Regions from separate parts of the Homo sapiens genome. Here region 2 is linked to region 1. Evidence: fine-mapped expression QTL. A gene starts in region 1. The other region holds a variant in brackets. All regions are shown on one strand. Distances are from middle to middle.

Evidence for each region. PIP is the estimated chance that this variant, and not a neighbour inherited with it, causes the effect.
Region 2: its variant is the best candidate, but not a certain one, in a credible set for the expression of ITGA5 in whole blood (TOPMed, PIP 0.88).

The regions. Positions count from the first base shown.
Region 1 is chr12:54,417,232-54,421,616 of GRCh38, reverse strand. It overlaps ITGA5 (integrin subunit alpha 5), which reads left to right and starts at 2,351. Exons shown (of 30, transcript NM_002205.5): 1 at 2,351-2,636. The coding sequence starts at 2,419. The region is part of intron 2 of GPR84-AS1 (GPR84, ZNF385A, ITGA5 and GTSF1 antisense RNA 1); the gene reads right to left.
Region 2 is chr12:54,443,795-54,448,179 of GRCh38, reverse strand. All of the region lies in intron 3 of GPR84-AS1 (GPR84, ZNF385A, ITGA5 and GTSF1 antisense RNA 1), which reads right to left. Among named protein-coding and RNA genes, the nearest start is that of ITGA5, 27 kb to the right of the region's middle. The variant G/A (reference allele first, on the strand shown) is at 2,535.

The sequences.
Region 1 (4,385 bases):
GTGCTGAAGTAGCTCTAATTAGGAGGGGACCCCAAGTTAAGGACGAACCCAGAGCAGAGGAAGAGAGGATCAGGCAAAGGCAGGCATGGTGAGAGGAAAGGCAGGAGGTGTTGGGGCCACTGGGAGAGGACTTATAAGGGCAGAAAGAGCCAAGAGAGGAGGGATATTGGGGAGAGTAGAAAGGCCAGCCAAAGAATGACTAAGGGGCTCCCGGTGTAAACAGGAGCAGGGAATGGACAGGGAGGGGGCCTGTTTGAGTTGGCCAAGGCTAGGGGTGGAGTGGGGAGGAGGACTGGGGCAGGACGCTATGTCCCCTGTCCCCCACCAAGGCTCCTGGGAGGAGCTGAGTCACACACCTCCTTCCCTGCACCCCTCCCCACCCCCACCCCTAATCTCCCAAATCCTGGGAAAATCTAAAGAGTTTGCCTAGACTGAGAAAGGAGAGTGTTTGGTTCACACACGTGTTTTGCTGGGCTAAAAAGCAATCAGGCCTCAGCCCTTCTCCTCCCAAAGGGGGTTCCCAGCCCATGGCTTGAGTAGCTCTCACCTAAAGGTTGCCTTTTTGGCAATGCTGGGCTTAAAGATCCTGACCCAGAGATTCCCTGGGTTCCTCACCTAAGAAAGGGTCAGGACTTGCAGATGTGAGAATGGGATACGGGCCAGCATTGCCCCACAGTCTGGCCAGCCAGCCTCTCCCTTGGGCTGCAGCTGGCTCTGGAGGGGGGCTTTTAAAAAAGCAGATGGGTGATTTGGGACAGGAAGTGGAGTAGCAGAGTGAGGGGGAGAGTCATGGCAGGAAAAAAACATTGACTCTGGGCACTCTTATTCTGAGCCTTTCAGCCCGAAGTGGGGCAGGGGACTGGAGAACAGAAGGGACAGGGTTGACAGGATATTATTGACAGGGTATTATTCTGGAAAGTGAGGAGTCCTGGAGGAAAGAGACTGAAAGGACTTGTAGTCCCCTCCCCCAGACTAAGATAAAGGCTAGAATCCTGAAAAGTGATCTCATCACACAGAGCCTGAGCTTGGGGAAGAGGTGGGCAGGGGGTCACTGCCTTCCCTTTCTAGAGTCCCTTCCTCTACTTCCACAGGGGAATCTGGGAAGAATGGGGTCCTGGCTTTCCGCTCCCATTGTTTTTTTGGTTTTTGGTTTTTGGATTTTTTTTTTTTTTTTTTTTTTGGATACAGTCTTGCTCTGTCACCCAGGCTAGAGTGCAGTGGTGCAATCGCGGCTCATTGCAGTCTCTGCCTCCTGGGTTCAAGTAATTATCCTGCCTCAGCTTCCCGAGTAGCTGGGATTACAGGTGCGGACCACCACATCTGGATAATTTTTGTATTTTTAGTGGAGATGGGTTTTGCCATGTTGGCCAGGCTGGTCTTGAACTCCTGGCCTCAGGTGATCTGCTCACCTCGGCATCCCAAAGTGCTGGGATTACAGGTGTGAGCCACCGTGCCTGGCCAGAGCTCCCAGCGTTTACAGCCATTAGGAGCTGAAGGTTGGGTCCCTTTGCAAGACTTTCCACCACCACCACCACCTCTCACAATTCTCCAGGTTTGTAGGAACCCGGCCAGTTTAATCAAGCAGGTACTGAGGGGCCAGCCACTCGCAGGCTTTTGGTCAACTGTCAGATCCAAGGAAGGGGCTCAGCAGAGGTTTACATACCCTAGGACCAAGAAGGGGGCAAACTGGAGCAGAATCCTCCTGATGAATGACCCCAAACTCCTGGGTTTTCAATACTAGCAAGCTTGGAGGAGGAAGCAGCGGAACTTGAGGAGCCCGTGTAGGTCCTCTAGCAAGCTGACTGCGAACGCTGTCTCTGTACCTCAACTGTTGTGTCCCAAATCCAGCTGGCCAGAACCCAGGCACCCGGCGGCCCCGGAAGGCAAGGGGGAATCCCAGTTGGCCGGACGCCAGAGGAGTCTCCTGTCTCTTTAGACCCCAAAGTCTCCTCCCTAAAGCACTGAGGGAGACCCCACACACATATACAGGCTTCCTCCGCCCACCAGAGGTGATTCCTTTCCTCATTAGGAAATTCTCCGCTCCCTTTTCCGACTCGTTTTCCGAGCGTTTACGTTGTACATCTGGAAAGGAATGGGGAGGAAGGAGGGGGAAGCAGAGAGGAGGGGGAAGAACCCAAACCCGCCCAGTCTAACCCAGTCCAGACAACCGGCTTCCAGCTGGGGCTGGGGAAAGGGGGTTGGAGGGGTGCGCCCCCCCCCCACGCCCCTTAGGGGTGGGGGACGCGGGCTCAGAGTTCCAGGGACCCAGGAATGCCCCCCCGCCAGCCCCCTCGGCAGGCGGGGGGAGGGCTCAGCCGGGAGTTTGGCAAACTCCTCCCCGCGTTGAGTCATTCGCCTCTGGGAGGTTTAGGAAGCGGCTCCGGGTCGGTGGCCCCAGGACAGGGAAGAGCGGGCGCTATGGGGAGCCGGACGCCAGAGTCCCCTCTCCACGCCGTGCAGCTGCGCTGGGGCCCCCGGCGCCGACCCCCGCTGCTGCCGCTGCTGTTGCTGCTGCTGCCGCCGCCACCCAGGGTCGGGGGCTTCAACTTAGACGCGGAGGCCCCAGCAGTACTCTCGGGGCCCCCGGGCTCCTTCTTCGGATTCTCAGTGGAGTTTTACCGGCCGGGAACAGACGGGTGAGTGAGGAGGGCTGGAGACGGGATGGGGGTGGGGGAGCCGCCTGGAGACTGGGGGCGCGGCTGGGGTCTGGAGGGGACCAGGGCTTAAGTTTGAGGGTGGAGTTTGTAAGGAATAGAGCTGCAGTTGGGGGCCCTGGCTAGAGTTGGGGGCCCGCGCTGGAGTAGGGAGGGCACCGTGGCGGGTGAGGAGGGGCCCTGGCGTTTGAGATCAGTGGGGAGACATGTGTCCGGTGGGGAGAGGACACGGAGCTGGAGAAGTCTGGGCAGGGGTCTCCGGGCCAAGGGAGAGGAGAGCGCGTGAATGGAGAGCTGAGGGTCTCTGGCTGAAGTCTGTGGGCTGCTGGGACCTGGGGCGGGTGGGGGCGCAGAGGGGGCGCAGAGGCCGGGAAGGGCTTTTGGGGGCTCCAGGAGACCTCGGGATCCGTAGGGGCCATTGTGCGGCGAGAGAACGGGTAGAAGCCGAATGAGCTACGTGTAGTAGGAGGAAAGTCAAAGACTGAGGGGGTCGGAAGGTTAAATGGGGGCCAGCCTCATCCTCCCCTCCCCCCTCAACTCAGACCGGGGAAAGACCCGAGAGAGGACGGCGGCTCCCTCTCCTTTCTCCTCTGTCTCCTACTCCTCCCTCCGCCCCCAATCTCTGTTCAGGCGAGGGGATCCGAGAACTGGGGGCGAGTGCGGGGACCCTGGCACTGGGGCCCTGGGGCTGGGGGCGAACTCAGCCAAGGGCGGGTGCTGGGATGTGTCGGGAGGGGTGTGTGCGCGCGTGAAGGGGGGTGGGCGGTTTCCCTCTTCCTCTGGCTCTTGGGAGGAAGAGAAAAGCTGGTTTCCTGTAGCTGGTCGGCTGGAGCTGTGCTGAGACCGGGACTTCTGGGGCTGGGGTCGGAAGCTGGGGAGACGGGGGCTCCGTGGGGCCAAGAACGTCAGAATGAAGGACTCAGGACCCTGGAAATCTCAAAGGAGGATCCTTATTCCCAACTCAGCACAGTGATAAGCAGACCCGGACCCCGAGTGCCTAGAAAATGGGGTACTGACAGGCTTGGGAAACAGGAGTTAGAGTGGAAGCAACATTAGAACCAAGGGTGTCTGTTTAAATGTGGGATGGCGGGGAGATTGGGAAGCAAGAGAGGTAGGTGGTTGCTCCTGGGCTAGGCCATAGATGCCAGATTCCTGGTCCTCCACAATGACTGGTGTAATCCTTTTTCTTCTACATCTCTGAGCTGGGAGCTTCCTACTGCTCACCCCCACCCCAACCCCAGGATCTCAGGGTTTGAGGGGAATTCTGTCAGAAGCGACCTGTTTTTACACATGAGACAGTTAACTGATCTCTACTCAGTCCCTATAGTTTTTGGAGAAAAGGGGTTAATCTAGCTAATACAACTGGGGAGAAAGGCAAATTCTCCTTTGTCTGGAGGACTTGGGGATGGGAGAAAAGAAAAATGATTAGGCCCCGACTGTTGTTCTGGGCTATTCAAGGTCCCCACCCAACCCCCACCCCACCCCCCTGGCCTTTTGCCCAAACCCCATTGCATCATCACCCTGGCCTGGAGCCTCTGCCAGGCCTGGTCTCCCCCAGGTTCCCTCAAACTTCTTATCACAGCCCTAATGGAGTAGAAAAGAGGGAAGGAGGAAGGGGATGAGGTCTCCTCCCGCAGATCAGAGTATCTAGTTGTCTGGCATTTAACCTTCTCTTTACTCCCCCCTCCCCTAAATTTCCCTTTAAAACACTCCTCTAAAACATCTGGACTT
Region 2 (4,385 bases), 27 kb before region 1:
TTTTTTTGGTAGAGATGGGATCTCACTATGTTGCCCAGGCTGGTCTCAAACTCCTGGCCTCACGTGATCCTCCCATCTCAGCCTCCCAGAGTGTTGGGATTACAGGTGTGAGCCACCATACCCAACCCTCTTCTCTTTAAATTAACTCTACTCTTTCCTTAACTCTTTCAGCTATGAAAATGTTTATGTTTATTTTTTAAAATATATACCCTGTTCTCCATATTAATCAGGGTTTGGTTGCAGAGAACAGAATCGATTCTAGCTAGATTAAGCAGTAAAGGACTTATTACTAGGGCATCAAATGGATGGATCACAGAATTCTGGGGAAGGCTGAAGAAACAAACTCTAGACTGGACTTCCAGAAATGATTCCTAAAGACTGCTAAGGGAGGCCAGTCGTGGTGGCTCACACCTGTAATACCAGCACTTTGGGAGGCCAAGGTGGGCAAATTGCTTGAGCCCAGGAGTTGGAGACCAACCTGGGCAACATAGTGAAACCCTGTCTCCACTAAAAATACAAAAATTAGCTGGGGTATGGTGGCATGCGCCTGCAGTCCCAGCTACTCAAGAGGCTGAAATGGAAGGATTGCCTGAGCTCAGGAAACGGAGGTTTCAGTAAACCGAGATCTTACTACTGCACTCCAGCCTGGGTGAGAGAGTGAGATCCTGCCTCAAAAAAGAAACTGCTAATCAGGCCGGGCACGGTGGCTCACACCTGTAATCCCAGCACTTTGGGAGGCCGAGGCAAGTGGATCACCTGAGGTCAGGAGTTCAAGACCAGCCTGACCAACACGGTGAAGCCCCGTCTCTACGAAAAATACACAAAAATTATCCAGGCGTGGTGGTGGGTGCCTGTAATCCCAGCTACTCAGGAGGCTGAGACATGAGAATTGCTTGAACCCAGGAGGTAGAGGTTGCAGTGAGCTGCACTCCAGCCTGGACAACAGAGTGAAACTCCGTCTCAAAAAAAAAAAAAAGACTGCTAAAGGAGCTGCTACCGCTTCTACTATATTTAGGAAGCTTCTACTACATTCAAGAAGCTTCTACAATAGTTAGGAAGCTGCCATTGCAGCTGCTAGTCCAAGAAGTAACCACCTCTGCCACTGTCAGCATCCCTAAATGGATGCCCTGCACCCCGTCTTAACCCCTGCTGGCTTCAGAATCCAAGTGAAACACTAGTGCATCTGATTAGCAGAACTTAATTCAGAAGTGATTTAAGATAGCTAGCTAGAAGAGAATGTGGGAAATTTAGTCTTTAGCTTTCCAGCTTCTGCACACTAGAAGAGTGTGCATTCTGACCAAACAAATACATAAAATCCTTCACACTCCCACTGAAGCAATTACGACTTCGGTGCCAAGTTTTTTGAAAGAGTTGTCTATACCTGGTCTTAAATTCCCACTTACTCCTTAATCCATTGCAATCTGGCCACTCTATTACCATCATCACCACCCAATCCCCTATTTGCAGGACCAGTGGTCCGTTTTAGTCCTGCTCCCTGAAGCATTCAACAGTAGCAGATTGTTTCTTGTGATGCTTGTGATAGTGGTCATATCAATGTTGTTCATGAAAGAATTAGCTGGGGCACTGGGCGCAGTGGCTCACGCCTGTAATCCCAACACTTTGGGAGGCCGAGGCAGGTGGACCACTTGAGGTCAGGAGTTCAAGACCAGCCTGGCCAACATGGTGAAACCCCATCTCTACTAAAAAGTGCAAAAATTAGCCAGGCATGATGGTGCCCGCCTGTAATCCCAGCTACTCGAGAGGCTGAGACAGGAAAATCACTTGAACCCAGGAGGCAGAAGTTGCGGTGAGCTCAGATCATGCGACTGCACTCCAGCCTGGGCGACAGAGCAAGGAGATCAGTCTCAAAAAAAATGAATTACTTGGAGCCATCTTCCTCAAAGGGGCCTTGGACTTGAAGGGAATTAGAGCTTCAGCTGTCACCTAGACTCGCCCTTCCTTGTACATGACTAATCCAGATTAATGATGTTACTGTTCTCTCAGTCTTTTCAGAATTCCCTCACATTCAATTAGCCACCAAATCCTGGCATTTAAATACCAAAGATGACTTCCGAAGCCAACCAGTTCGTTGCATCTCCATCACCACTACTCTATTTCAGATCATTACCTTTGCCCGAACTATTGCAGCAGCTAGTCTTTTAGCCACTAGGTTTTCCTCATTCAGTTTATCTTCCACCTGCCATAGCACAACTTTCATGATATTTAATTGTTCTTAATTTACCCAGTAATAGTAAATAGCAGGCCGGGCATGGTGGCTCATGTTGGTAATCCCAACACTTTGGGAGGCTGAGGCAGGAGGATCACTTGAGCCCAGGAGTTCACAACCAACCTGTGCAACATAAAGAGACCTTGTCTCTACTAAAAATAAAAAAATTTAGCCAAGCATAGTGGCAAATACCTGTAGTCTCAGCTACTTGGAAGGCTGAGGCGGGAGGATGGCTTGACCCCAGGAGTTAGAAGCTACAGTGACCTGTGTTCACACCATTGCACTCCAGCATGGGTAACAGAGTGAG[G/A]CCCTGGCTAAAATAAATAAATAAATAAAAGAGTAATAGCAAAGGCTTATGAGCACTTGGTATGCACCAAGTACTATACAATGTACTTCATATGCATGTCACATTTAATTCCACATAATAAAGTGGATACTGTGCCTACAAGTAAAGATACAAGTCCTTCCTTGATAAATAAGGAAGCTGAAAGTCCTCAAACTTACAAGATTTGACCAGAGTTGTTTAGTTACTATATGGAGAAACCAGAACTGGAGTCATGTCTGCTACCCCTAAAGGCAGCACTCTTAACCCCACTGTATTTTATGATTGCTACAGCCTCATCTCTCCCCATCCTATTCATAGTCTAGCCATGGCGAACTCACCGTCTTTCTAATATATGGTGGTCTTTAATAACCATACCTCAGCACATCTTGTTTCCTGAAATGCACTTGTTCCCTCCCCTTCCCAATGCCTTTCTGCTTAGCATATTCCTATTCCACCTTCAATTCCAACTTAAATGTTACCTCTGGAGTAATTTTTCCAAGTTCCCTGTTCTATGCTCCTACTTTTCCCCATTCATACTTTTTTTTTCTTTTTTTTTGAGACGGAGTCTCGCTCTGTGGCCCAGGCTGGAGTGCAGTGGTGTGATCTCGGCTCACTGCAAGCTCCACCTCCCGAGTTCACGCCATTCTCCTGCCTCAGCCTCCCGAGTAGCTGGGACTACAGGCACCTGCCACCAAACCCGGCTAATTTTTTGTACTTTTAGTAGAGACGGGGTTTCACTATGTTAGCCAGGATGGTCTCGATCTCCTGACCTTGTGTCCGCCTGCCTTGGCCTCCGCTGGGATTACAGGCATGAGTGCTGGGATTACAGGCATGTAAGTGCTGGGATTACAGGCATGAGCCACCGCGCCTGGCCCGTTCACTCTTTTTTTAATAATACTTACTGAGTTGTGTTGTAATTAGCTTCTTAATGCTTGTATCTTTCAGGGTTTAGAAGGAAACAGAAACCACTCTTGATATTTTAAGCAGAAAGGGAATTTAATATAGAAAATTAGGTACTTACAAAATCATTTGAATAGCTGAAGGAGCAGGCTATATGTGAGACCTCTAGGAATGACTCTCAGAACACTACTGAACTAACTCACCAAAGGAGCTACAGCCTCTGATGACCACTGGAATACTAAGTTTAAGAAGATAGCACCATAGCTACAATCTAGAGATCAGGAAACTGCCACACAGTCCAACAACATATGTAATATCAGACTTTTTATAGAGCTACTGACTAATGTAAACATCCAAGTACATGGTCCACAGAAGAGAGAATAAAGGAAACTGGATAATCAGTACCTGGAGCATTGAGAGTTTGCTCTAGGGTGTGTTGGGGTTTTTGAATGTTTACTTTCATAATAAGATTGAAGTAAATGATGAGTTAATGGGTGCAGCACACCAGCATGGCACATGTATACATATGCAACTAACCTGCACATTGTGCACATGTACCCTAAAACTTAAAGTATAATAATAATAAAAGAAAAAAAAAAGAAGAAAAAAAGATTGAGGTAAGTCTCTCTTTTTTTTTTTGGAAGGAAATTAGTTATTTTCAAAGCTCAGAGAAATATGTACCATATGCCAAACCACCCCCCAAACCACCCCCACAAAAAAAAAAACTGTTACTATAGTAGTTGAGTACTAAATGGACAGGCAAACCTACTTGACAAAAGTGGTTATACCCAGGCACAGTGGCTCAAGCCTGTAATCACAACCCTTTAGGTGGCCAGCGTGGGAGAATCACTTGAGGCCAGGAGTTCAAGACCAGCCTCAGCAACATAGCGAGACCGTCTCCACGAGAAAAAAAAAAATTTAAAAATTAGCCAG